Linked DNA regions of Homo sapiens. The protein of the gene in region 3 interacts with the protein of the main gene of each other region in a biochemical or structural test. Each region holds a gene or a part of one and is shown on either strand. Other genes may lie near its edges.

The links.
Region 1: of the proteins of MAP3K1 (region 3) and CEP85, one has a biochemical effect on the other in vitro, tested with the Homo sapiens proteins (one large-scale study listed by BioGRID).
Region 2: of the proteins of MAP3K1 (region 3) and NEK10, one has a biochemical effect on the other in vitro, tested with the Homo sapiens proteins (one large-scale study listed by BioGRID).
Region 4: of the proteins of MAP3K1 (region 3) and STAM2, one has a biochemical effect on the other in vitro, tested with the Homo sapiens proteins (one large-scale study listed by BioGRID).
Region 5: of the proteins of MAP3K1 (region 3) and IMPACT, one has a biochemical effect on the other in vitro, tested with the Homo sapiens proteins (one large-scale study listed by BioGRID).
Region 6: of the proteins of MAP3K1 (region 3) and DNAJB6, one has a biochemical effect on the other in vitro, tested with the Homo sapiens proteins (one large-scale study listed by BioGRID).
Region 7: of the proteins of MAP3K1 (region 3) and CRELD1, one has a biochemical effect on the other in vitro, tested with the Homo sapiens proteins (one large-scale study listed by BioGRID).

Annotation. Positions count from the first base shown.
Region 1 is NC_000001.11:26,232,959-26,237,447, reverse strand, and holds the start of CEP85 (centrosomal protein of 85 kDa), read right to left. Parts: upstream 3,249-4,489; 5' UTR 3,138-3,248; exon of another isoform or gene 2,800-3,137; intron 1-2,799. UniProt on the Homo sapiens protein: Acts as a regulator of centriole duplication through a direct interaction with STIL, a key factor involved in the early steps of centriole formation.
Region 2 is NC_000003.12:27,306,574-27,310,585, forward strand, and holds part of NEK10 (serine/threonine-protein kinase Nek10), read right to left. Parts: intron 2,433-4,012; coding exon 2,353-2,432; intron 1,373-2,352; coding exon 1,286-1,372; intron 1-1,285. UniProt on the Homo sapiens protein: Plays a role in the cellular response to UV irradiation. Mediates G2/M cell cycle arrest, MEK autoactivation and ERK1/2-signaling pathway activation in response to UV irradiation.
Region 3 is NC_000005.10:56,877,688-56,881,699, reverse strand, and holds part of MAP3K1 (mitogen-activated protein kinase kinase kinase 1), read right to left. Parts: intron 2,721-4,012; coding exon 2,599-2,720; intron 990-2,598; coding exon 898-989; intron 618-897; coding exon 428-617; intron 131-427; coding exon 1-130. UniProt on the Homo sapiens protein: Component of a protein kinase signal transduction cascade. Activates the ERK and JNK kinase pathways by phosphorylation of MAP2K1 and MAP2K4. May phosphorylate the MAPK8/JNK1 kinase.
Region 4 is NC_000002.12:152,165,408-152,169,419, reverse strand, and holds part of STAM2 (signal transducing adapter molecule 2), read left to right. Parts: intron 1-4,012.
Region 5 is NC_000018.10:24,440,077-24,444,088, reverse strand, and holds part of IMPACT (protein IMPACT), read right to left. Parts: intron 3,594-4,012; coding exon 3,471-3,593; intron 1,041-3,470; coding exon 937-1,040; intron 1-936. UniProt on the Homo sapiens protein: Translational regulator that ensures constant high levels of translation upon a variety of stress conditions, such as amino acid starvation, UV-C irradiation, proteasome inhibitor treatment and glucose deprivation.
Region 6 is NC_000007.14:157,364,301-157,368,312, reverse strand, and holds part of DNAJB6 (dnaJ homolog subfamily B member 6), read right to left. Parts: intron 1,812-4,012; coding exon 1,752-1,811; intron 941-1,751; coding exon 830-940; intron 1-829. UniProt on the Homo sapiens protein: Has a stimulatory effect on the ATPase activity of HSP70 in a dose-dependent and time-dependent manner and hence acts as a co-chaperone of HSP70. Plays an indispensable role in the organization of KRT8/KRT18 filaments.
Region 7 is NC_000003.12:9,936,485-9,940,496, forward strand, and holds part of CRELD1 (protein disulfide isomerase CRELD1 isoform 2 precursor), read left to right. Parts: intron 1-1,077; coding exon 1,078-1,188; intron 1,189-1,530; coding exon 1,531-1,622; intron 1,623-4,012. UniProt on the Homo sapiens protein: Protein disulfide isomerase. Promotes the localization of acetylcholine receptors (AChRs) to the plasma membrane.

The DNA.
Region 1 (4,489 bases), on a different chromosome or scaffold from region 3:
TTTATATGAAATGTCAGAATAGGCAAATCCATAGAGACACAGATTAGTGATTGCAAAGGACTGAGAGGAGGGAGGGTAGGAGAATAGGAAGGGACTGCTAATGGATACCGGGTTTCTTTTCAGGGTGATCAAAATGTTCTGAGATTAGATAGTGGTGACTGACTGCACAACCTTGCCAATATATTAAAAACCTCTGAATTGCACACACATAAAATTAAATTTTATGTTATGTGATATAAGCCAAAAAAAAAATTCTAAGACATCCCCAACCACCTGAATGGATCCCTCCCCTTGGCCAATGGCATTCCAAAGTTAAGCTGAAAAACCTGTTAAGGCCATGATGGTGGTAGTGGTGGTGGAGTCCTACACCCCTCATTATACCCTCCTCCCTTCTGGAATTTAGGAAAAGCATTAACATTAACACAGATGTCTGTAAGAAACATTTATAATCTATTCTCTCTAAAGCCTACTATTTGGAGGCTTCATCTGTACAATAAAATGTTGATCCCCAGGATACCTTAACCCAGACATTCCTTTCTATTGATAACAACTTTCAACCAACTGCCAATCAGAAAATTTTGAAATCTACCTATGACCTGGAAGCCCCCACCCACTAAGAGTTGTCTTACCCTTCCAGATCAATGTAAATCTTACATGTATTTGACTGATGTCTCATGTCTACCTAAAATGTTTAAAACCAGGGCACACGTTATCAGGATCACCTGAGGGCTGTGTCAGGGGCCACTGGTCACCCATATTTGGCTCAGAATAAATCCCTTCAAATATTTCAGAGTCTGACCCTCATTGACAACAAATATCTCAAAAAAGAAAAACAGAAAGAAAGAAACCCCGTAAGGAGTAAAACAATACAAAATAAATCATTCTTGACTTAAGAATTAGATGAGCTACTGGTGGAAATTTTTGGGACAACTGAAGGAGACAGAAATTTCCTGGGATAAAAATGAGAGAAGTGAATGTACAAGAAGTAACACACCAGTTATAAAGCTTAGAAAGGGAGTGAATGGAGGCAGACAGAGGGGAAAAAAAAAAAAAGCACCCAACAGGATTGGTTTCCATCTTCAAAGCCCTTTAAACTACAGAAACAGTCACTCATTCAACAAATTTAACATGCATTCTGCACTTACTACCTATCAAACACTGTGCTCAACACTTTTTAAGTATCATGTCTCATGTTTCATGTTCACATCAACCCTATGAGGCAGTTACTATTATCCTCATTTTATGGATGAGAAAATAAAGGTTTACAGTAGTGAAGGTCATATGGCTAGGAAGAGGCTTCAAAGCCAGGACTGTACTCTAACGCTACAGTAGTCTAGTCAGCATTCTACATGTGACAAAACACAAAAAAAGAGATCAAGCATGGCACCACAAGTTGGAGTTTCTGCCTCAGACAGCTAGAGCTGCAAGCCTCAATTATATGAGCAGTAAAAGCTCATAAAATTTCTTCACTTTGTCCTTGGTCATCACCTAGGCTTTATTTCTCAAGTTGCTACCCAAGAATTAGATTTTGACTGCCGTAAGTATTTTTCCCCTATAAGAATTACAATCTAAGTGTGGCCGGGCGTGGTGGCTCACGCCTGTAATCCCAGCATTTTGGGAGGCCGAGGCGGGCGGATCACCTGAGGTCGGGAGTTTGAGACCAGCCTGACCAACATGGAGAAACGCCGTCTCTACTAAAAATACAAAATTATCCGTGCATGGTGGCGCATGCCTGTAATCCCAGCTACTCGGGAGGCTGAGGCAGGAGAATCGCTTGAACCTGGGAGGCGGAGGTTGCGGTGAGCCGACATCGCGCCACGGCACTCCAGCCTGGGCAACAAGAGCAAAACTCCGTCTCACAAAAAAAAAAAAAAAAAAAAGAATTACAATCTAAGTGTGGAACATCATGCTTGGCAGCTGTTAAGAGAACCACATCAAGACAAGAGAGGATTTGAAGGGATACACAGACAGCTGACACAGACACACGAAGGATCTCACACCATTACACTATTTTCACCGCCTTGATCATTCATTAAACCTTGTGAAAGAGAAGCCAAATCCTTGACAAGAAGTTGCCTTTACAAAGAAAAGTCGTGAGACATACAAAACCACCAGATCACTATAAAGCAGACAAGGTTTGAGGGCAAATAAATGAGGCCTGGCTAGCTTCATCGTCCTTGTATCACCACCGCCCCCTACTTATCCCAGTGTTCAATTCATCAACCGAAATTTACTGCGTGCCTACTATGCGCCTGGCTCTGAGCCACGTGTTGGGAATGTACTGGTGTAAAGGATCGCTCTCATTAACTGAGGTGAAGTAAGCGTTGAATATACTGTTGAACAAATAAACCTGAACACACTAACTTTCAGTTCAACCAAAGCACCAGCTCCTTCTCGCTGAAGGAAGCTTCCTCACCTTCCGCCCTACTGACATTTTGGGGGATTTTTCTTTGTTGTTGGGGGCGTCCTACACACAGTAGGCTGTGTAACAGCATCCCTGGCTTCTTCGCACTAGATGCCAGTAGCAAGCCCTGGAGCTGTGACTATCAAAAGTGTTTCCAGACATCGACCAATGTCCCCAGGGAAGCAAAATCGCCCCGGCCGAGAAGTACCGGGGTAAGGCCCCGCCAAGTGCTTTCCGTCCCACAACCTTAATTCTCTACACAGCCTTCCAATCTCGGCTCAAACTTCTCCTCCTCGGGGAGGGCTCCCTGACCTCTCCGACTAGATCCGCGCCTTCTGTTTTGCGCTCTTTGTAAGATTTCTCCACTCTACCCTCACTGCGCGCCGAGGGATTACCCCGCTTAACGTCGACTCCCAGGGCTGTGCGCTCCGCAAGGGCAAGGAATGCGCCGCTCGCTGTGTCCCTGGCTATCGGCACAGGGCCTGGCACGCAGGTAAAGTGACTGCCGTGGGGTGAACCACGGACGGCAAAGCAAGGCAACGGGGGAAGCGAGGGGAATGGGACGCGAGAGGGCGTATGCCGGGGCACTGGCTTCGGAGCCGAGGCGCATGCGCTTCGCTCTCCCCGGCCCCTCACGGTGGCAGGTCGCGAGCGTCTGAGGCTTCGCCGGAGCTATGGGAGGAGAGGCAAGGTCGGCCACTAGGACTGAGGCTCCCGAAGGAGGAAAACTTACACGGGCCTGAAAGCGGGCGGCGAAATCCCTCACTCGGGAAGACTGACTGCAGCCACCACGTCTGCGGTGAGCGGTGGTTCCCTCCCTCAGCTCCTCTAACGGCCGTTGCACGCCCGCCAGGCCGCGCGCCACAGAACGCGCGTCGTTTGGCCCCACCCCGTTCTGCCGCCTCTGGCCAATCGGGAGTCGAGCCGCGCCGGCTTCCCGCCCCTTTCTATCCTCTTCTGACCAATCGGCAGCCGAGCCGCGTCGGTATCCCGCCCCCACACGCTACCCTCTGCTCAGAGAGCCGGACGGATCTTTCTGCGCATGACCACGTCGCCACTTGGCTCCTTCTCTGCCCCTTGCCGCGTTTTACCTGTAGGTGGAGCTCTGCTCACCTAGACCTGGAGGGGCCCTGCTGGGCCTGTGCAGGTTGGGAAGCTGGCGGCCCGCGGGCGGGGCTGGGGACACGAGAATCCCACTCAGCTTGCCTCACCCTCCTTCCATTCCAACGCCGGTCTATCAGTTCTCACACCTGAAGCAGGGGTTCAGGTTGTGACCAGGAGTTAGGGTGTGGCCTGGGTCACTGACTAGTCAGGGTCAAGGCTTGGTCTGGGTTGGACGCAGTGGTCAGCCTGTGACCAAGGTTCAGGTTGAAGGGTAAAGGATCAGTCCTGCCTCCCTCCCCAAACTTGGTCCACAGGAAAAGGAACTGTTAAGTCCATTTGCATTAATATGCGCTTGAAGAGTCAGACAGGAAAATTGTTTGAAAGGAGAACAGAACCATCAGCCAAAGGAATGAATCTCAGATAGTGAAATTCTGGGTATCTAGAAACCTGACTTGGCAGGGAGAGATACTAAAAAATTGTATAGGAGGCCGGGCGCGGTGGCTCATGCCTGTAATCCCAGCACTTTGGGAGACAGAGGAGGGCGGATCACGAGGTCAGGAGATCGAGACCATCCTGGCCAATATGGTGAAACCCCGTCTCTACTAAAAATACAAAAATTAGCTGGGTGTGGTGGCGCATACCTGTAATCCCAGCTACTCGGGAGGCTGAGGCAGCAGAATCGCCTGAACCAGGGAGCCGGAGGTTGCAGTGAGCCGAGATCGTGCCCCTGCACTCCAAAAAAAAGTTGTATGGAAAAAAAAAGTTGTATAATTTCTTAGCTTTAAGAGCCAGACAAAGTGAGTTCATTACTGAATAAAAGTCACTCTAGAGGAAAGACCCTAGGGATGTGCCCCAAGGTTGTATCCTTTGTCCTCTCTTTTAGTATTTTAAGATAAGAATATAGAAGACATAAAATAGCAGATTTAATGGATAATGAAAATGAACCTGGGTATGATATGAAATTAGGACCAGAAGCCTCTG
Region 2 (4,012 bases), on a different chromosome or scaffold from region 3:
ATCATGCTTAAAATGTTCCCATGAGTCCCCATAATGTTCATGATAAAATTCACATCGTTATTTATCAGAGACCATCATGACCTGGATAAAGGTGTCTTGTTGCCTTATCTATAAAATACGGGAAAAATAGGGTTAATGTGCAGATCACATGAGTTAATAAGCAAAGTGCTTAGAGCAGGTCTTGGCATATAGAAAACACTGATCAAAGTTAGCTACATTTTAAATTTATCATTAACTATCTGTTCTAGTTCTCTGGCACTTTTGTTCTTATGGTCCTGCTGTGCCCAACCATCACATTCCTCTAACACACCCAATTTCATGCCTCCATGTCCAAGCACATACTGTTTTTATGTTGTCTCTCTCTCTCTGCCTAGATATCTTCTCTTTCCTCCAGGAAACTTTGCATGACTCCACATTCTAATTGGGAAGTCTCTGCTCCATGTTCCCAGAGTACCCTGTGCATCTGTCTACCGTATCAGTTATAGCACTGTTTGACCCTCTTCTACACTACATATTTATAACTTATTCATCTTTGGTTTTCAACACCTGGTACCAAGCTTGGAACCTTGTTTGTTCAGATAACCAAGTCTATAAGTATTATCTATATTTAATGCTCTTTTATGAGAGTTTTGAAGAAGAATCCAAAAGGATTTACTATGAGTTAAGTGTCAGGGCTCCATTGCTGGAGATTTCTTTTTATCTATTTTGCCTCTTTAGAAAATTACTCAACTAAATATCAAATGATATAGATTGCAACTCTATTTAAGTACAATCTAATAACTATCTGGATAGTTATTAGAACAATATGCAGTTCAAGTAAAAATGAATCCATTTTACTCTAGATTTTGAGTTATCATAGCAGGTGATCACAAAACAAGTCAGTTGCTATCTTATTTTACTTGCCTTCATGCAAATGGATTTTAGCAACCTAATCACTTATTGTAATATACAATTTGAAATTACTAAAACTAGAGCCACCTCAGAGTTTCTTTCCCTAAAAAGGCAGGATATAAATAAATGCAATAAACAAAACATTAAAAATGATATCACAAAAATTTATTTCATCAGCTTCTATGCCCAGATCTAGAAGTAATGCAGGACTAAACATAAATGGATATACTTCTTTGCTCTATTTTCTTTATATAAACTTAAACAGAAAATAAATGCCAAGCTGACTCATCATATTCAGTTACAATGTAAATAACATGACGTAATAAAAATAATAACAAGTGTATCTGTCAAATAAAGGCACTGCATTGTCTTTTTCTACTGTTAGCAATCCTACCTTTTAGAAAGCAAGTCATATTCATGTAAAATCATCAACAGATTTTCTACAATGTTGAGTTCACTTATCTTCTCCCTACATTCTTGACTATAAATTGAAAAATATTAGCAATTACTAAAAGCATATTTTGCTAGATCCATGTATTAGTCCTTTTTCAAACTGGTATAAAGAACTGCCTGAGACTGGGTGATTTATAAAGGAAAGAGGTTTACTTGACTCACAGTTCAGCATGGCTAGGGAGGCCTCAGGAAACTTACAGTCATGGTGGAAGATAAAGGAGAAGCAAGGCACCTTCTTCACAAGGCAGCAGGAAGGATAAGTGCCGAGCCAAGGGGGAAGAGCCCCTTATAAAACCATCAGATCTCATGAGAACTCACTCACTATCATGAGAACAGCATGGAGGAAATGGCCCCATGATTCAATGACCTCCACCTGGTCTCTCCCTTGACATGAGGGAATTATGGGGATTACAGGGATTACAATTCAAGATGAGATTTGGTTGGGGACACAAAGCCTAACCATATAAATTTATTTATTTAATATCCTAGCTCCAATATTATCTTGGGAGAAGAGATCAAAAAACAAAAGGAATCATATGTTATTCACAGAAAAGCAATGGTCCACTTATTGTCATAAAAACATTTAAAATAATCATGACATTTATAAGAGGAAAGATCTTCTTGAAAATTTTTCAAAGCCCACAGATGTTTGAAAACGTTCTGTATGTTAAAATTCACAGGTAAGAATGAATTAAGATGGTCAGAAAGATTCAACTGCCAAAGAAATATTATGGTAATTTTGAAATTAGAAGTAACTGAGGGTTAGATGAAAAGACTAAATATTTCCAGTCAGGAAATAAAAAGAAAATTTTAAACTGCAATTTGCCTTTCCAGTTTAAATTTTTAAATAATGCCTTCTATCCAGGATTCTCTTCAACATGTTATTTCACACTTATTTATCAAGAAATTGTATTAAGTAGTTGACAAAGTAACTGATTATTTTGCATCCTTACCACCTAAATTGCTATAGTAGCAGAACTGGAAAGTATATTAGAATACACTACTTACCTTTCTGCTAAACTAGCCAGAGCCAGAAGGGAACCCAATAGAACATTAGTATCTCGGGCACCAAGTAAATTTACTAATGTCTGAAAAATGAAGTAAAATAAAGTTTAATTATATAAGTACTACAAGCTTCTTTTTTCAACATTAACATTAATTTATTTTCCATTACCAGCTGCTTGAATGACAAAATGCTTCCCTCTTAAGATCATATAGGCTTAACTGTTTTTTTTTTTTGCTTAGTAGTTTATAATGTATGTGCATATACAATTAAGCACAAACTATATATAATGTTAAAGCTGCTCTCTCTTATGTTTTTTTCTTAATGTTATCTACTGAAATTTTTTCATGGCATTAAATATATCTTTATAAACACTTTTTGTCAATATAATCAAGTTGTTTATTTTATTATGGCTTTACCCATAGAATAGTGAAAAAAATTATGCCCTATCAAGCCTTATGCAGCTTCCTTTTTATTTTTTGCAGTCAATATAAAAGTTTATCTTAAAAAGAGTTTTATTAAACATTCAAAATATCCAGTTCTTTACAGATGGCAGGAGTCCATCTCTCCTTACTTTGGAACTCTTGATAGTAACCTCTTGTAGCCATTCCTTGCCCAGGACAGGAAGAAAAGGCATCAAGCTACATGACCAGCCTGGTTCTCATACATCCTTCTATTTCCATGTGCCCAAGTATTCTCTCCCCCTTCTGATCCCACGCTGGGAAGAACCAGGAAGATTAATGACATAAATTACAATAGTGGTAGTGATCAGCCATTGAGAACTCACTTTGAGCCAGGCATTGTGCTAGGCACTTTCCAAATTATGAAACGATTTTTCAACAAAATATTGAAACTTTCATTCTTTTGCCAAACTAAACAAGATATGAATACTATCGAGCATTCCATTTGCCTCCCAGATTTCTAATTGATGTTGAAAGTGCATCACTGATGCTCCCAAGCATCATCCTAACTAACATGACTTAGCTGGAAGTCTGTAGCTTGTCAGTGGCTTTCCCTGAATTCTCGTTAAGGCAAATTTTCTTATTTGGAAAATTCTCTACATTTTCAGAATGCGGAGTGCCCCTGAAAAGTGCCTCCCAAAATGTCTCAGGTCAGAGCTGCAACCTGCGCAACAACGGCTAAGGTAATTTTTATGTTTCCAGTATATGGATTTTTTGCCTTTATGATTTCATTTTATCTTAATGAAGTTATCATTATCTTTATTTGTCTGATCCTTTCCTCTTTTTCTTCTCTCTTTCTTCTCTGTCTTCTAATGTTTCCCAAACTTCAATCCATTACATATCATTTTCACATTTTTTGCCATATTCAACTAACATCTTTAATGTTAACTCAAAAAAATTTTTTCCAATTGTAAGCAATAATACCTGTGAAATAGCTGGCTACTGAAACAAAAAATGTTGACCTGTGTATCACCTAGAATCATCCTCTAGACCATGAGCAGCATGTGTTAACACATTTTAGGCAATCTTGCTCCCATATACACTAGAAAGTGGCTTCCCGGGATATGAAACTCAACAGGTTTCTGAAACTTGGCTCCACATGGCTACAGTCTAAACAGTTTTGCTATAAATATAGTCTGTTTTGACCTACAATGGCAATCATATATGGTTCAAACTAATATAGCCCCACATGCCATATGGAATT
Region 3 (4,012 bases):
CACATGGGGTACTGTAGTAACCATTCTTGCAGAACTCAAGTAGATCCTTCTGGAAAGTTTGCCAACCATTGAGTGGGAATTATCAATGGACTGCAAAGCAAAGGTTAAGAGGGACAGCAGCTTCTTATACCTGAAAGAAAAAAACATTCATTACCATATAAGTTCCAATTACTGAAAAATACATGGAAACTTAAAAAATGGTAGTAATTTACAGCATGTATACTTCAAAAACCATTTCAGCATAAAGTATCTATGAATTTTTAATTAAAGAGCCCAGACTTTGGGTTTTCATATGTCAATCAAATATTAAGGTATCAGCAACCTATTCATGCTCTGAGTCTTTCAAAAATCTAAAATGTGTCATTCTTGAGGAGGGTGTAGGGAGGGTAGGAAGATACAAGTAATACATTTTCAGAAGAAAAATTACCTGATTTCAACAGGCTCAGCTTGTGAAACATCAGTACTGACAATATGAGGATAAAATTCAGCAGGAAATTCCAACAACAGTCTATCTATAAGACAAAGGCGGCCAAGAAGTTCTTGCCAATTGTTTGATTCAGTTTGGTTTCCAAGAATACAATTTAAGACATAATCAACACCACCAATACCAATGGATCCTACAAAAAGGAAAGTAAAAATAAATGATTAAAAAATAGTGATATTAAAATCTAAAACAAGACATGATTAAATGGTGTAAGGCCAACAAAAATATTCTGAACTATTTTAAAGAATTTCTCTCTCAGAGTAATTCACATTTCTAACTGTAACACAGTGAATCAATTTATAAAATTACTTCAAAATCCTGTAAACTGCCTCATGAGAGATTATGAGATTAGACAAGGCTGCTCAGGAACATGATAAAATATGCTATATTCCTTTTAAGTGAAAAGTTATTACCAGCTTTTAGTATTTCTCTGCCAACTGCCAACTCTCCTGCTTGGCCTTTGCACAGTTCCAACAGTGTTGATATGGACAGCTGACTTGTGCGGCTAAAAACAAAGGAAAAGCAACATCAATCCTGGATCTTGGCTAAAACACTATACAATATTAGAGGAGTAATGTAATGCCTTGTGAAAAAGTGGAGAAATAATGTTTTCAGGAGTGTTTACTTTTCCACCACTAAAATCATATTAACAATGTCACCATAAGTAGTAATATTCATTTATTAGGTCTAATTTCGTAAATTTAACATATCCCCTATGTTAAGCACAGAATTTTCAACAATGGCTCTTTGCAAGTACTGATTTAAATACCAAATCAGATAAAAGTCTTATATTTTGTTAAAAGAAAAAACAAGGACCTTGATATTTTGATTTCTGAACTTTCACTAAGAAGCTCTTGAATTAAAAACAAAACCTTCCTATCCAAAAACCCTCCATTTCCTTACATAGCCAAAATGAGGTCTGAATATTATAAAATCTCTCTACAGTATTTCTTATGTTCAGTCATTCAGGTGACCAGGTAAACAACCTAAGTTTGGAGTTTCAAAAAGTGAGCAGCATAACAAATACCATGAGAACACTGAATTCTCAGAAATATACCTATTCTAATATTTAAAAATGACATTTTTCCTATGCATTTTGCAAATTACTTGTTAATTTGCAATATTTTACAGATATACAATGTTTTCTCTAAGCAACAAGGAAACATCCAATATTTTCAATCTATAGAGAAAACAATAGAGGCAAAAGACAGACTTCATGATATGAGAAATTCGTTAAAGGTAGGTACCTAATTTTTGAGATCCTGTGCAAACTAAGTCATTATGACTTGCAGAGGAAGAGAAAGGTTGTACTGAGAGAACTCTAAATGGGTGAAATGGAAGAGGCAACAGAAGGGAGATTCAACACTTCTTGCTAACCAAGATCTGCTGGGATAGAAAGAAATAGGAACTACCAAATAACTGTTCACAGTAGCTGTGATTATTAAATGAAAATTGATCTTTTCCTCCTATTTTATGGAAGGGGAAAATAAAAGAGAACCATTGGTCTGAAAAAAGCATGGCTTGTACTCATCTTTACTGTCATTGTACCTCAATTCTCTACTTCATATTTTTCTTTCCAGTTAGGGTTATTCTTGTTCCCTGTCAATTTTTAAGGATATTGCAGGAATATAAAAAATCTAAAAATTTTTTGACAAAACTGTCATAAGTAGAGTAAAATTCCACTACACTGAAAATGAGATGGATTTGTTAATTTTTTATCCTGATAATAAGGCATATGCAGGTGTAATGATCTTACTGGTTCCTATTCTGTGTAACCCATACTCTAATATGAGATTATAACTTATAGATATAAATGTCAACTACTGTTCTTATCGACTGGTCTTCAGATTATGAATGTTACTAAAGAGAGTAAATCACAATACAATAATGTGGAGATCCATGCAGTTTGTTTGCCTGGCTTTTACTTGCCAGTAGTTCTTTCCGCCAGTCCTTAAGAGCTTTATGCTGCATTTTCATTTTAAATCTCACATTAAAAGACAATGTTCAAAGACTCATTTAATAAAATGTATCAGATATTCACACTAGGTGTGAGGCTTGCTGCGAGGCACTTTTAAGACAAGAGGGTTTGAAGTGATTCATCAATAAAGCCTTACCTATTGGCATCTGCACATTTGACTAGGATGGTGTCTACAACTGGCTGGAGAAGTCTCTGAAGTTTGATTCTTTCCGCTAAACTGTGGCAAGGAGTATATACCAGCATGGCTCTCAATGTTTTCTAAGGAAAAAAATCTGAAGGTCAGTTTATGTACACTTAAAAAGCATCAGAGATAATGGCCTAATTTGAGACAATTTGAGCAACAAAATAAGTAGACAGGAATGGATTATAACCCATAGAATAAAATAAGAATTCCATGCTTCTGTAATAATACAACTAACTAACAAAATAAATGAATGGGGCAGGAAGGAATTTTCTGAACTCTTTTCTCTGCAATTTTTAAAAGTCTGAATTCATTTCAAGATGAAAAGTTAAAAAAAATTATTTTAAAAAAGAAAATGAGAACAGGCGCCAACCTGAAAGAGCTCCCAATGGTCAAGGCTGGAATAATTAGAGCAACAAAACAAATGATGGTAGTACTGGGTTGCAACCCACAGAACAAAATGAATACCCAGGAGCCTACACCAATACAAATTAAAAATTGAATAGGTATATAAACAGAGAAGCTCTTCTTTATAGAATAATTCCAATTAATTAATGTAGAAGGAATGAGGAAAATAGAAAATCACCACTAGAACACCATTTTTTAAATTATACTTTAGTTGTGGGGTACATGTGCAGAACGTGCAGGTTTGTTACATAGGTACACACATGCCATGGTGGTTTGCTGCATCCATCGACCCGTCATCTACATTAGGTATTTCTTGTAATGCTATCCCTCCTCTACCTCCCGACCCCCGACAGACTCCAGTGTGTGATGCTCCCCTCCCTGTGCCCAAGAGAGCACCATTTTTAATGGTGTAGTAATAACTGCTATAGGCAAGATCCACAAATGCTTTTAAAATCAGTGGACAAAATTTTGAGGTGAAATAGGGTATTTGCATAATCTCAAAGTAACTCTCACAAGATATTTAGGAATATTAACTTTACAGCAGGGAAACTTGGTAGACATTACCTTAACTGACAGCATCACCAATAATAAAAGCCATGGGCATATGTACCCACTGATATGATGCACTAAGAAAGGCCTGTCACCTCTGTGGCGTTCTTGTGAAAAATACGTAACTTCCATCTAATCATGAGAAAACATCAGATAAACCCAAATTGAGGGATATTCTACAAAATAACTGGCCAGTAAACTTTGAAAGTATCTGTCAAGGTCATTAAAAACCAGGAAAGGCTGAGGAACTGTCATGGATGAGAAGACATTAAGGGGACATGGTGACTAAATGCACTGTGGGATCCTGGATTGGATCCTGGAACAGAAAAAAGACAACAGCAGAAAAACTGGTGAAATCTGAATAAAGTCTGCAGTTTAGCTATGAAGGGCACTGTTGGGCAACTGAAGAGAT
Region 4 (4,012 bases), on a different chromosome or scaffold from region 3:
CTGTAGTCCGAGCTACTCGGGAGATGGAGGTGGGAGGATGGCTTGAGCTAGGGAGGTTGAGGCTGCAGTGAGCCATGATTGCATCACTGCACTCCAGCCTGGGTGACAGAGCCAGATCCTGTCTCCCGAACAAAACAAAAAAACGAAACCAAAAACCAACACCAAAAAATAAAACAAAATTGATTTTTAGAGTTCCAGATACATTTCTTACTAATCTTTAGTTGGGTATGTATGTTACAAATCTGTATTCTAGTTCTGTTTGTTTCTGCTGTCTTTTATTGTAAAGAAAATGTGGGTTTTCACTTAGTGATATTTGTCATTCTCCCTTAATTTTATTTTTCTTAAGAAAGGCTTCAGGGCTGAGTGTGGTGGCTCACACCTGTAGTAAAGAAAAGAAACCCTTCTCCACCCTGAGGTTATACAGATATTTTCATATTTTCTTCTGCAAGTTTTACTAAACTTTTGATTTTCACATTTAGGTCTTTGATCCACCAGGAATTAATTTTTGTATAAGGTCTGCGGAGGAATTGAATTGGATAACCAGTTGACAATAGACAATAATCAATTGTCTAATCACTGTGGATTGAATTGTCTGTTTTTTCCCCACTGTTTTATAATTGTCTTAGCTATTTTGGGCATTTCAAATGGATTATATGACAGATTGGTTAAAATCATTATACAAGGGAATTTCTTGTAGGTTTTTAGGATGTAAGAGAAAAGACATTATAATTTTATTTTTGTTTCACATCAGCTGATATTGATGGTTTAAAATATATTTTTATTCCTTAATAACATTTAATGATAAGCTTATGTATAATTTGTAAGTAAGTCAAGAAGAGAATGATTTTCTGCCAGTGAATATACAACATAATACTATAGCAGTGTAGTTAGGTGGATGTGTCTCTAGCATGGCTTTTGTTTAAATAAAGGACCTCAGAGGTGTTGCGTGTAATAGGCCTTGTGGCTGGGCGCGGTGGCTCATGCCTATAATCCCAGCACTTTGGGAGGTCGAGGTGGGCGGATTACAAGGTCAGGAGTTCGAGACCAGCCTGACCAACATGGTGACACCCCATCTTTACTAAAAATACAAAAATTAGCCGGACATGTGGTGCATGCCTGTAGTCCCAGCTACTCGGGAGGCTGAGGCAGGAGAATCACTTGAACCCGGGAGGCAGAGGTTGCAGTGAGCCAAGATCGCGCCACTGCACTCCAGCCCGGACGACAGAGCGAGACTCCATCTCAAAAGAAAAAAAAAATAGGCCTTGTATATAAGTATGTAGGGTAGGATATCAAACTCTGGTTACTTGACAAGTGATGGTTCTAACCACCTATTACCCAGGTATCAAAATGAAACTTAAGGATATATCATTTCTTTATCTCTTGTTATTTTTTTCCTCCTTGGTTGTCTATTGTCCTTTAATCTGACCACTTTTCTTCTCCCCCTTCCTTGATTTTTCATTTTGTCTTAAGTTAAAAAGCTTTTATTTTATTTTATTTTTTCTTCTTTTTTGAGACACAGCCTCACTCAGTCGCCCAGGCTGAAGTGCAGTGGTACAATCTCAGCTCACTGCAGCCTCTGTCTCCTGGGTTCAAGCAATTCTCCTACCTCAGCCTCCTGAGTAGCTGGGATTACAGGCACCCACCACCATGCCTGGCTAATTTTTAATTATTTATTTATTTATTTTTTTCTAGAAATGAGGTTTCACCATGTTGTCCAGGCTGGTCTTGGACTCCTGACCTCAAGTGATTCACCTGCCTCGGCCTCCCAAAGTGCTGGGATTATAGGAGTGAGCCACCATGCCTGGCCTAAGTTACAAAGTCTTTAAAAGTGTTTTTGCTTACAGTCTTTTTCCTGTTATAAAAATATCAGCTAATTGGCAATATTTGTCCAACACCATGGGTGAGAAGGATATTAGTTCCTGAGGCATTTTGGTATTGTTGAAACATTCTTTTCCCTCATCCTTTGTTTTTTAGGATTAAGTTTCACATTGACTTATTGGCATCTGCTATCTTTTTTGGTGTAGTAAGTGTTGCTCCCAGCTTTTAGACTTCCTTTAGCGTTATTTTCTTAATGGGTCTGTGGCTGCTATGCTTAAAGGACAAGCACCTCTCTGTCCCTATAGCACCTTGTGGAACATTTACAGTTCTTCACCATGGAGACCTGTTATGGCGATCTCTGTTGCATTCAGGGAGGCCTTTCTTTAGTTTCCTCCAGTTAAGAAATGTTGAAAATGAAGTGTCTTGTGAAGTAGTTCCAGTTCTTACTGACTTTTAATGCAAGCTCAGAACTGTGTTTAATCTCATATTTAAAAAAAGCATGAAGGGAAATGATGAAGGATTTAAAAAATTTTATTATGTACAGTCTCCCTCATATTTAGTGTAATTTTTAAATGATAGCAGTTGGATGAAAAATCTGTTATTCAGTGAAATTGTTATTGTATCTGAAAACTCGCAAACTATTTTCTTGGTCGGTAAACGTACCCTTAGTAAGCACTTGCTTATTTTCATTTGCAATATGAGAATTGTAGTGACTCAGAATTTTACTTCTCATTTGTACTAAAAGTTTTTTTTATTCTTATCTGGAGCAGCAGCTTTTACTTTCATTTGTCATGGGATGAATTATCTTAACCTTCTCTTCTAAAAAAAGATCTGCTTAAAGAAATCTAGCATGTGCAGTGTTTTGGTTTGTCCCCAGCAGTACTAAGTCCTTGAGGTGGAGGGTTGAAGGGGAAGAACTTTTTTTTTTTCAAACATTAATACCTTATTAGGTTCTCTTAAGTTACCTGATAATGAATAAACCTTTATATTTAATGGAGAGATTGAACCTAAGAAGGTCATTGTGGCAGATATCTGGGAATGGCCATTGTCCCCTGAAAATTATTGACATTCTGAAGTGGCCACCTGCTTATAGGTGTTAAGAATAGGCTGTGTATATATGTATGTAGGGTAGGATATCAAACTCTGGTTACTTGACAACTATCAGTTCTAACCATCTATCACCCAGATATCAAAATAAAACTTAAGGATATATCATTTCTTTATCTCTTGTTATTTTTTTCCTCCTTGGTTGTTTTTTGTCTCTGAATCTGACCACTCCTCTTCTTCCCCTGCCTTGATTTTTCATTTTGTCATATTACTCCAGTTTTATGTCAGAAATTTGTCACTACATGATGATGTAGTCTTAAAATTTTTAGCTATTCTAGTGGGTATGTCATTGTGGGCTTTGTCGTTGTTGTTGTTGTTTTTGAGACAGAGCCTTGCTCTGCCCCCCAGCCTGGAATGCAGTGGCGTGATCTGGGCTCACTGCACCCTCCACCTCCCAGGTTCAATCTGGGACTACAGATGTGCACCACCATGCCTGGCTAGTTTTTGTATTTTCAGTAGAGACAGAGTTTCGCTGTGTTGGCCAGGCTGGTCTGCAACTCCTGGCCTTATGTAATCCGCCCGCCTTGACCTCCCGCAGTGCTGGAGTTACAGGCATAAGCCACTGTGCCCGGCCTTCATTGTAGTTTTAATGTGCATTTACTTGATAACTCTTGATTTTGGGCACGTTTAAATATATTTATTTGCTAAATGAATGTTCTCTTTTTCAAAGTACTACTTGTTTAAATATTTTGTCCATTTTTCTTTTCACTTAATTTTCACAACTCTTTTAAGCACGGCAGCTATTTTAATCTCCATTTGACAAATGAGAACATGGATTTGGGTTTGAGTCAGAATGGAGGTGAACTACTCCAAAGCTTATAAGCTAGTAAGAAAGCTTCAGAGATGGATGTAGGCAAGGCAGGTCCTCGTTGTTTTATTGGTGATGTGTATCCCGCGCCACCCCCCTGAAGCCTGACAGTACTCCACAGGTGCATACGGAGTGTGCATAATGGTTTTCTCAGTCTGCAGAGGTAATGTAATCATCTGCCTGGCCTGTTTGCTTTTGATTCTCTATCTGTAACTTTTTGGCATGTTAGTGGCTGCCTTGGAGACTTTTTTTTTTTGAGACAGAGTCTCGTTCTGTTGC
Region 5 (4,012 bases), on a different chromosome or scaffold from region 3:
TCAACGCAGAAAAGAACTTCCTCTTTCAGAGAGTGAAACAGCCTGGTACAAAGAGCTGTATCCCTGAAGCCCAGGGCTTTAAAGAGCTTCAAGAGTAGGGTAGCTGCAAAGACCAAAGGAAGAGACTCATGCCTAAAACCTGCAGTAAATGAGACATTTTTAAAAATGTAACTTTACAGGTAGTATTGAAATTGCCTCGTACATCAATAATGTAAGCTGAGCTACATTATAGAAGCAAGGAAGAAGAAAAGGATTCTGCTGAAAGGAGAATGAGAAAGGCAAAGACCTAGGAATAGTTTATGGCTGAAACCTCTCCCATTTATATCCCTGGGTGGAAATATGGTCACCTAAGATCAAGAAGCACAAAGGAAAGTAAGTCAGGTAGGGAGGACTTGGTTTAGCCAGTCTGTCCACTGTCCCCTTTGTTGAATAATAACAGAGGAATGGACTTAGTTTCACAGAACTCCCATTCGACAGGACAAATAATTCTTTTTGACAAGGTATTAAGCATCATAATTTTCTCTAATAACACAATGGGTATTTCTTATTTAAAGATTCATTAGAGGGTTAACCCCTAATCAGAGTTTAGATACAATTTTGAAAGCAGTGACAGGCCTGGCTAGGTGGCTTATGCCTGTAATCCCAATACCTTGGATTGGGAGGGCTGGAGGCAGGAGGGCTGATTGAGTCCAGATTGAGACCAGCCTGGGCAACATGGTGAGACACCATCACAAAAAAAAAGAAAGAAAGCAGAGACAAACAGAAACAAAACAAATCTTCCGTGATTCACAGTAATTTGGGAGTAGAAAAATGAACAAATAATTTTTATCTTATATGAAAATAAAACATAAAAGTAAAAACAAGGGGATTATTGCAAAATCATTTACCTGAATTATTTTAGTAATCATCAAAGTGAGCTAGACAAAGGAACTTTACCTGTTTGGGACAAACCACTGGAGCCAAGTGTGCCTGAAAAGTACTTCTTCGGTCTGTAATAGGAATGCCATGATCAATCGGAGGTAATTCTTCTACTTCTACTTCTAGAAATGTAAAAGAAACTTTATTTTTTAAAAAGCCTTACATTCAAATACTGAAAAAAATGAAATGGGGGGGCAGCTGGGAAAGAAATGTAAATTACATGGCAAATCAACTAAAATAACCATTAATCGCTATCTACCAAAATTAAATTTAAATTATAATTTTAAGTAAAAAGTTTCTAACTATATTGTACATAAGATTAAAATACTTGATTTATAAATGATTTCCACCTGCCAAGGTTACCCAGGGGAAGCAGTGGGTTGGGACTAATCTTGAACTGCTGCAGTCAGTAGTGTAAGTTGGTACAATATCTAATATATAATTTTTAAGAGTGTAAAGGAGTCCTGAAACCAAAGATTTATAGCTGCTAATATAAAATTTATTTATCAGTTTCACTGTTGTTAGACCTCTGAGTTGGGAAAACTATGAATTTATATTCTTTATATTGTGTAGCTATAATATAATGCCTTCTGCTAATGAAACTGTTTCTACTTCATATGATGGAATTAAATACATCAATAATACATCCAATTGGTATTCCTTAAAGAGCATCATGATTTCCAGTTATTATACCTCTTAAAACAAGTTTAAGGATCATGGCTGGGCGTGGTGGCTCACGCCTGCAATCCCAACCCTTTGGGAGGCCGAGGGAGTGGATCACCTGAGTTCAGGAGTTTGAGACCAGCCTGGCCAACATGGTGAAACCCCCGTCTCTACTAAAATACAAAAATTAGCTGGGCATGGTGGCGTGTGCCTGTAATTCCAGCTACTCGGGAGGCTGAGGCAGGAAAATTGCTTGAACCTGGGAGGCGGAGGTTGCAGTGAGCCGAGTTTGTGCCATTGAACTCCAGCCTGGGCAACAGAGCAAGACTCCATCTCCAAAAAAAAAAAAAAAAAAAAGAATCACTAATTAACCCTCAATTCTGTTGAGAGACTTAATCGTCCTGGCTACTACTACCTGCCTCACTTAGGATGAAAAGTTATTCAAGACAAGAAAGTAGGTTTATGTAAGATGTTTTACACCTTCCCTCTGATACTGTTCTTTTCCTGAATTGATTTTGACTGCTGTACTAACATAGTAATAAGTCAAATACAGTATTAGGGTCAATATGAACTACTGACCAATTGATAGTATTTATTTATGAGTATGATTTTTATCCTTTTTCTTTTCATGGTAGATCCTGTTTTCAAAAGATATCATATGTCAAATCCACACACAAATAAATGATTAAAATGGGAGCTACTTAGGCTAGAGCATAAATGAGAGCCCTGGATGCTCCCCACTCTTTCATTTCCTCTTTGTTCCCTTCTACTAGTCCTGGACACCATTCAAAAGCCTTAAAACTCAGAGCACCTTTTAAAAGCTACTGTGTAATGACACAGGAAACCCCTCACCTTCAAACAGAATGAATATTCCCCCTGGTCTACCATGTTTTCCTAAGAGGCTTAGGGAAACTAACAATAACATTCAAAATTTTAAAATATTAAAATGAAACATAATATCACAGCAACCTATTTTTATGTTGAATACTACTCGATTACGAAACAAATTTGTTTAAACGAAAACTAGGCCGGGCGTGGTGGCTCACGCCTATAATAATCCCAGCACTCTGGGAGGATGAGGTGGGTAGGTCATTTGAGGTCAGCCTGGCCAACATGGCGAAACCCAATCTCTACTAAAAATACAAAAATTAGACAGGCATGGTGGCATGTGCCAGTAATCCCAGATACGTAGGAGGCTGAGGCAGGAGAATCACTGAACTTGGGAGGCAAGGTTGCATTGAACTGAGATCGTGCCACTGCACTCCAGCCCGGGCAACAGAGCAAGACTCTATCTCAAAAAAACAAACAAACAAACAAAAACTGAACTCAAGCTGGGCACAATGGTGCATGCTTGTAGTCCCAGCTACTCGGAGGCTGAGGTAGAAGGATCACTTGAGCCCAGGAGTTCAAGGTCAACTTGGGCAACACAGCGAGACCTTGTCTCTCAAAAAAAACCTCTTAAAGGCATTTTACTAGCTTTAATTTCCAGGGCTGCACTTTCAGTTAATATATTTGTATTTGTGAGCACAGACTAAAATTTAATCCTGAAACATCAGGAAACAGCTAAGGATTTCAATACAGAAATATAAAAACATGATGTTAACTAAAAACGTTAATAGCCTTTCTTAGTTTCAATTTCTTCCATCACTAAATCAAAACTCTAGAAAGTAGGGGGAAAAGAGTAAATTTCCATTTTTTCCTTGCCATTCTGATAAGACTTGGCAAACACCAAAATTGCCAACAGGCAGGAAAAAATTAATCTTATCTGCAAATTAATAACTCCTTCCTAAAACTGGAGAAAATTAGTAAATTTCTCTATCATCTCAAAGAACAATACATAATACTACCAACCCACTCTCCTCAAAAGAAATTAGTTAGTAACATTATACCTGTCCGAGTTTCACTGATATCAAAATCCAATGCTTTAAGCGAACTTTCCGGCTGACATGCTAAAATGAGATCATCTTCACATTCAACATCTTCCTCTTCAGTTTTCTTCTTTACATCTGGGCCTATGTGAATATGAGACACAATTACTTTATGACGCAGGTAAGAAACGATGCTTTTTAAAAAAAAATCACTGGGTCTTGGGTTCTAAATACCACTCTTCAACGAAAGGAACCAGCACTCAGCCCGTAGGAGAACTGGTTGATTCCTGAGTTGGAGCAAGGAAACTACAAGATGAACCTGGAACCTCATGTGGATCCACAAACTGGGAAATGCTCAAAAAGAGATGGGGCTTATAAAAAGAACACAGGAGTTAACCTGAAGGGGCTCTTAAAGGTCAAAGCTAGAACAATTTGAGCAACAAAAAAATATGATAGGATGGCATTTTAACCCATGGACTGAAATAATATACATGAGTCCATACTGATATAAATAATAAACAGATAAATAAATACATAAATGGGAAGAGACATCCCTTCCTCAT
Region 6 (4,012 bases), on a different chromosome or scaffold from region 3:
ACAACGTTTCCAAGACACTCGCACCCATGCCCTTACCACTGTCTCTTCTGAGGGCAAAAGCAAGTTAATTAAGGCCATACATAACAAAGAAAAAAATACATTAAACCCTTTATTATTTTAATTTTTCAAGCTGTAACTTAAATTTTCAAAGAGGAAGAAGAGAAAAGATTTTACAGCTACTGTGCTGTTTTATTTTTTTGAGACAGGGCCTTGCTCTGTCACCCAAGCTGGAGTGCAGTGGCCCAATCTCAACCTCCCAGGCTCAAGGAAATCCTCCCACCTCAGCCTCCCAAGTAGCTGGGACCACAGGCACACGCCACCACACTCAGCTAATTTTTAGTATTTTTTTTGTTGTTGTTGAGACAGGGTTTCACCATGTTGTTCAGGCTAGTCCAATGCTGCTTTAAACACAAAGTTTCGTGACAAAATACAATGTTAACTTTTTTTTTTTTGAGACAGGAGTTTCACTCTTGTTGCCCAGACAACAATGCAATGGCATGATCTCAGTTCACCGCAACCTCTGCCTCCCGGGTTCAAGTGATTCTCCTGCCTCAGCCTCCCAAGTAGCTGGGATTACAGGCATGCGCCACCATGCCCGGCTAATTTTGTATTTTAATAGAGACGTGGCTTCTCCATGTTGGTCAGGCTGGTCTTGAACTCCCAACCTCAGGTGATCTGCCCGCCTCAGGCTCCCAAAGTGCTGGGATTACAGGCATGAGCCACCGCGCCCAGCCTAAAATACAATGTTAATTCAACAGAAAGGCCATACTAAGTAAGCCCTCATTTGGGTCATGGACACACACCAAGTCAACCCACGTGATTAACTTACCAAAGAAGTCAAATGAAAATGGGTCCCTTCCACCAAAAAATTCCCTGAAGACATCATCTGGGTTACGGAATGTGAAGCCAAATTCAAATGGACTGTCAAAATGACTTCCACCTGCACAAATACAACACAGCTTTTAGTTTATGAATTTTGGTGCTTTGTAGGCAAAGAATTCTTTGTTGACAAAACATTATACAAATCATGAACTAATAAAAACAAAAATATTTCATAAACCTGAAGTTCTCTATAATTCAAAACATGAGCCCTGTACTGACAGAGAGTGAGTGTGCCCAGCGCTGATGGCATATGAGTGCAGCAGTGGCCCCTTCGACACTACTTTTCACCATCTCTAAATCCGTGATCGGCATATAACATGTAACATTACACACCATTTTTATGATTTGTTATGAAGGTTTATGAAGACCAAGAGTATCTGCATCCACTTCGACGACTGGCCTCCTGGAGCCACAGAAGCTGCCGCGTGGCCCCAGTGGGTTTGGAGCAATAATTTCCCAACACCCCTGGGGAGGCTGGTCACAGCCCAGTGACCGTGGGAACTTTTGGGGACAAAGTCCACGCCCTTCAAAGTCATTATTTTAGCTTTTCAGGAAAATCTGCTCTTTAAACCCTTAGGATATTTTGACATAACGTCAAGTGCTGATCTAAGGGTATATGTTCACAATATATTGCAGTATGGTTACAAATTGTTTCTATCTATAAAAAATACATCAACATATACTTCTAGTCTCGTAAAAGACTTTTAAATGCCATCAATTTCTCTGTCCTCTCCCCAATTTAGTTCGCTTTCTACGTTGCATCTCTATTTACTGATACAAAATCGACTCTGACCAAGAGACTCGTGATTTACAAACTCAACTTACTTGCCAAGACCTTTTGTCTTCAAAGAAAAAACTCACGTACTTACCTCCTCCTCCACCATTTAATCCTTCTTTGCCATATTTGTCATAGATGTCCCGTTTCTTAGCTAAAAATTGAAAGAAAAGTCGGTAAGGCCAAGTTCCTTTTAAACCCTTAATTCAATAGATAAGGTATTTCCCCAGTTGTAAATCAGTTTTCGATGTTTTACAACTGAATTTCAAGGAGTATGGCCACCTTTTCTTTAAAACAAAACAAAGCAACAGGGAAAACTTTCTGTACCTCTCTCCTGAAAAACAATTCAAAAAAAATTCAGTATGTTGAATTTTTACAAGTTATTAGAAATATTTAAGTATTTACGGCCAGGCATGGTGGCTCACACCTGTAATCCCACCACTTTGGGAGGCCAAGGTGGGCAGATCACCTGAGGTCAGGAGTTTGAGACCAGCCTGGCCAATATGGTGAAACCTCATCTCTTGTAAAAATACAATAATTAGCCAGGCGTGGTGGCAGGCACTTGTAATCCCAGCTACTCAGGAGGCTGAGGCAAGAGAATAGCTGGAACCCGGGAGGCGGAGTTTGTGGTGAGCCAAGATCGTGCCATTGCACTCCAGCCTGGGCAACAAGAGTAGGCGCGGGGGGGACTTAGCCACGCGAGGTAGCTCATACCTGTAATCCCAGCACTTTCAGAGGCCGAGAAGGGCCGATCACCTGAGGTCAGGAGTTCGAGAGCAGCCTGGCCAACACGGAGAAACCCAGTCTCTACTAAAAATACAAAATTAGCCAGGCATGGTGGCGCATGCCTGTGATCCCAGCTACTCAGGGGACTGAAGCAGGAGAATCGCTTGAACCCAGGAGGCAGAAGTTGCAGTGAGCCCAGATTGCACCATTGCACTCAAGCCTGGGCAACGAGCAAAACTCCATCTCAAAAGCAAAAAAAAATTTTTTTCTTTATTCCATTAGATCGTTTCTTTCACTCTACTGCACAGAGCCCAGACATGCTACATTAAAATCACACGACCAAGTACAAGATTATTGCAACCACAGAAGTGCACCATCTTACTACAAAAACCCAATTAGAGGACCATATCTGCAGCACGAAAACAAACATGCCAGGGCCTAGGCAAGTGGGAGAAAGCAGATGTGCCAGAAAGGCGCCAACCTAACACCCTACAGGCTCATTCACCCTCGAAGTGGACCACCCGGATGCAAGGCCTGGGGCTAGTGTGCCCCTCTCCACTGACAGTCTTCACACTTACATTCCAAATGCTACTTATATCCCAGAACAAAAACAATGACATTAGAAGCACTGGTACTTCTGACATGACACCATCTGCGTTCCTCAAAAAATCTCATAGGCTGGATGCAGTGGCTAACGCCTATAATCCCAACACTTTGCGTGGGCAAGGAAGGTGGATCACTTAAGCCCAGGAGTTCAAGACCAGCCTGGGCAACACGGCAAAATCCCACCTTTAAACACAATACAAAAAAGTTAGCTGGGCACAGTGGCACCCACCCGTGGTCCCAGTTACTCAGGAAGCCGAGATGGGAGAATCGCTTGAGCCTGGGAGGTCAAGACTGCAGCGAACTGTGATCATGCCACTACATTCCAGCCTGGGCAACAGAGTGAGACCCCTTCTCAATTTTTAAAAAGTAGAAGAAAATCTCACATTCCACAAAATGGGAAAACGAGCTTAGAAACAAACCACTTGCAAGCAGTTTCAGGTAGCCAGTGCCATGGCAAGAACAATGACCATGTTTTGAAGACAACTCCAGCTGGCACTGAAGGCTGCCTAAAAGGACATGAAAAACACACCTCATACACCTCCCAAAAGAACCAAGCGACTTTTCAGTGTGGTAGTTTAAAGCTGCTCTATCAAATATGAAGCTTCATTTTGGCCCTCACTTTTCCTAATGTTACTAGTCCCTAAAATCCTGAATCTGGCAATACTGAATTAGCACACAAACAACAAGGACCGAAGACCAAGATGGTAACACTGAGGCCTGTGCCCTCCTCTGTCACTCCCAGCGCACAAATCTAAGGGAACAAGCCTGGCGCAATGGTGCTTGGAACTTGAGGAGAGAGGACGATCACCTCAACCCAGGAGTTCAAGGCCTCCCTAGGAAACATAGCAAGATCCTCTCTCTTTAAAAAAAATAAACTTTCCAATGAATAAGCTCAACAGTTCAAGACCTTAAATGCCACATTTCAAGAAGACTTCAAATATCGGTGTTTTTATGTCTTTTCATATTTTTTGAAGTAAAATGTTTGGAATTTCCTCTAAAACAAAGGGGGTGGGCCACAGTGTC
Region 7 (4,012 bases), on a different chromosome or scaffold from region 3:
ATATATATGTGTGTGTATATATATGTGCATATATGTCTGCGTATATATATGTGCGTATATATATGCGTATATATATATATATATGTATATATTTGTGGTAAAATACACATAAAAAATTTCCCATTAAAGACATTTAATAATATTTACAATGTTGTGTAACCATCACCACTATGTAGTTCCAGAACATTTTCATTACCCCCCCAAAAAATCCTATACCTATTACACAGCCACTCCCTATTCTCCCCTTCCCTCGGCTCTTGGCAATCACTAATTTGTGTTAGTCAAGCAGAAATTATGGATTTGCTGATTTCATTGGAATCATAAAATATGTGGCCTTTTGTGTCTGGCTAGTTTCACTTAGCATAATGTTTTCAAGGTTCACCCATACCGTAGCATATATCAATACTTATTCCTTTTTATGGCTGAATAATATTCTCATTTGGCTGTACCACATTTTGTTTAACCATGCATCAGTTGATGGACATCTGCATTGTTTCTACCTTTTGGCTGTTGTGAATAGTGCTGCTATGAACATTGTCTACAAGTTTTCGTTTGAACACCTGTTTTCCATTCTTTTGGGTCTATATCCAGTAGTGGAATTGGCAGGTCCTATGGCAATTCCATGTTTTACTTATTGAGGAACTGCTTTTCCACAGTGGTGATGCCATTTTGTATTCCCACCTGCAGTGTGGGAGGATTCTAATTTCTCCACATCCCTGCCAACACTTGTTATAGGATGTATTTTTAGCCATATCTACCCAGCAAGGGTATTATATTCCATTGCTCAGATGCAGGAACTGATGTATGTTACAACAAACCTGCAGGGAAGGTATTGTCATCCCCATTTTACAGATGACAAAACAAAGAGGTTCAGAGAGGTTAAGTGACTTGCCCACTAGATCTACCACTAGATTTGAACCCAGGTCTCTCTGCTTCCCAGAACCATGACCCCTTCCATTATACCTCATGGCCTCTCCTTTGATATTTTCACCGCACGAGGAAGGGTGGAGAGAGACTTGAGGAGGGTGGTGGGTGGGGTGGGGCATGTTTCCCACCAGCCCTGCCCTGTCCGATCAGTGAGACCCGCCTGGTAGAGGTGCTGGAGGGTGTGTGCAGCAAGTCAGACTTCGAGTGCCACCGCCTGCTGGAGCTGAGTGAGGAGCTGGTGGAGAGCTGGTGGTTTCACAAGTGAGTGGCAAAGGGCCTTCCCTGGAAGTGGGTCACAGGTGAGGCCTGGTGATAAGGCCTGATTTGGCCGAGAAGCAGGGGGGTGCATGCTGGGGCCCATGTCCTGGTTGTGCTCCTTCCAAACCCAGGTCTGCTAAGAACTTGCCGGGGGACTTGCGCTCCACTTTGAGCCTCAGTTTACCCTTCTGCCAAATGGGGAAAGGGCATTGGTCAGATGGCCTTTTGGGTCTTATGTCCAAGCTGGGTTGAATCACAGATTCAGGCATGGGGGAATGGGAACAGCACTTATGACACTATCTCAGCACCTCCTCCCCACCTCCCTCCACCCTGCCCCTGCCTCAGGCAGCAGGAGGCCCCGGACCTCTTCCAGTGGCTGTGCTCAGATTCCCTGAAGCTCTGCTGCCCCGCAGGCACCTTCGGGCCCTCCTGCCTTCGTGAGTTTTTAAGTTGCTCTTGGGGATGGGAGGGGACCACCGAGTCCAGGGATCCAGTCCTGGCTCTGTCCCTAGTTCGCTGTGTGAACTCAGGCTACTCAGATAAACTTCTCTGGACCTCAGTTCTTGCCTGCCTGACAGGGCTGGGGAGATGGGCAAATCAGTGGGGAAAGGCTTGGAGAAAGCACAGGGGCTAGACTGAGTCATATGCAGTATAGTTATCATCATGTACTAAAGAAATGATAGACTTCCCAGCCCCTTCATTTCCCATGCCAGATCGGACTATGGTACCTTCCTGGGGAGGGGCGGGTGCTGACCTGGAGCCTCCATGATCGCCATCCATCCTCACACACAGTCCTGGCACAAGAGCTGAACTTACTACCAGCCTCTTTTAGAGCAGTCTTTCCTGAAGCTACAGATAAAGAGCTAGCTACAAAGATGGCAAATTCAGTCTTTGTAAAAGAAAATATTGGCTGGGCGCGGTGGCTCACACCTGTAATCCCAACACTTTGGGAGGCTGCGGTGGGTGGATCATGAGGTCAGGAGATCGAGACCATCGTGGCTATCATGGTGAAACACCGTCTCTACTAAAAAATACAAAAAATTAGCCGGGCATGGTGGCGGGCGCCTCTAGTCCCAGCTACTCTGGAGGCTGAGGCAGAAGAATGGCATGAACCCGGCAGGCGGAGCTTGCAGTGAGCCGAGATCATGCCACTGCACTCCAGCCTGGGCGACAGAGCGAGACTCTGTCTCAAAAAAAAAAAAGAAAATATTTGGTCCAGTGGCTCGTACCTGTAAACCCAGCACTTTGGGAGGCTGAGGCAGGAGGATCACTTGAGGCCAGGAGTTTGAGAGACCAGCCTGGGTAGTAGAGCAAGACCCTGTCTCTTAAAAAAAAAATAGTGGGGCATGGTAGTGCAGCCTGTTGTTCCCCTAGGCTGAGGTGGGAGGATTGCTTGAGCCCAGGAGTTCGAAGCTGCAGTGAGCTATGATCATGTCATTGCCTGGGAAACAGAGCGAGACCCTGTCACTAAAAATAAATAAATAAATAAATAAATAAATAAATAAATAAATAAATAAAAGGTCTGTAAAATCTAATTGTTCCACAAGAGGAAATTGGTTAAGTAAATGTCAGTTTTATGACAAAATATTATGTCATTAAAATTAATTTTCTTCTCCAAAAATGTTTACTGATATGCAGAGCAGAAAATATTATCTTGTTTTTTTTGTTTTTTTGTCTTTTTTATTGATCATTCTTGGGTGTTTCTCCCAGAGGGGGATTTGGCAGGGTCATAGGACAATAGTGGAGGGAAGGTCAGCAGATAAACAAGTGAACAAAGGTCTCTGGTTTTCCTAGGCAGAGGACCCTGCGGCCTTCCGCAGTGTTTGTGTCCCTGGGTACTTGAGATCAAGGAGTGGTGATGACTCTCAACCAGCATGCTGCCTTCAAGCATCTGTTTAACAAAGCACATCTTGCACCGCCCTTAATCCATTTAACCCTGAGTGGACACAGCACATGTTTCAGAGAGCACAGGGTTGGGGATAAGGTCATAGATCAACAGGATCCCAAGGCAGAAGAATTTTTCTTAGTACAGAACAAAATGAAAAGTCTCCCGTGTCTACTTCTTTCTACACAGACACAGCAACCATCCGATTTCTCAGTGTTTTCCCCACCTTTCCCCCTTTTCTATTCCACAAAACCGCCATTGTCATCCTGGCCCGTTCTCAATGAGCTGTTGGGTACACCTCCCAGACGGGGTGGTGGCCGGGCAGAGGGGCTCCTCACTTCCCAGTAGGGGCAGCCGGGCAGAGGCGCCCCTCACCTCCCGGACGGGGCGGCTGGCCGGGCGGGGGGCTGACCCCCTCACCTCCCTCCCGGACGGGCTGGCTGCCCGGCGGAGACACTTCTCACTTCCCAGACGGGGCGGCTGCCGGGCGGAGGGGCTCCTCACTTCTCAGACAGGGCGGCCGGGCAGAGACGCTCCTCACCTCCCAGACGGGGTCGCGGCCGGGCAGAGACGCTCCTCACTTCCTAGATGGGATGGCGGCCGGGCAGAGACGCTCCTCACTTTCCAGACTGGGCAGCCTGGCAGAGAGGCTCCTCATATCCCAGACGATGGGCCGCCAGGCAGAGACGCTCCTCACTTCCCAGACGGGGTGGTGGCCGGGCAGAGGCTGCAATCTCGGCACTTTGGGAGGCCAAGGCAGGCGGCTGGGAGGTGGAGGTTGTAGCGAGCCGAGATCACGCCACTGCACTCCAGCCTGGGCACCATTGAGCACTGAGTGAACGAGACTCCGTCTGCAATCCCGGCACCTCGGGAGGCCGAGGCTGGCGGATCACTCGCGTTTAGGAGCTGGAGACCGGCCCGGCCAACACAGCGAAACCCCGT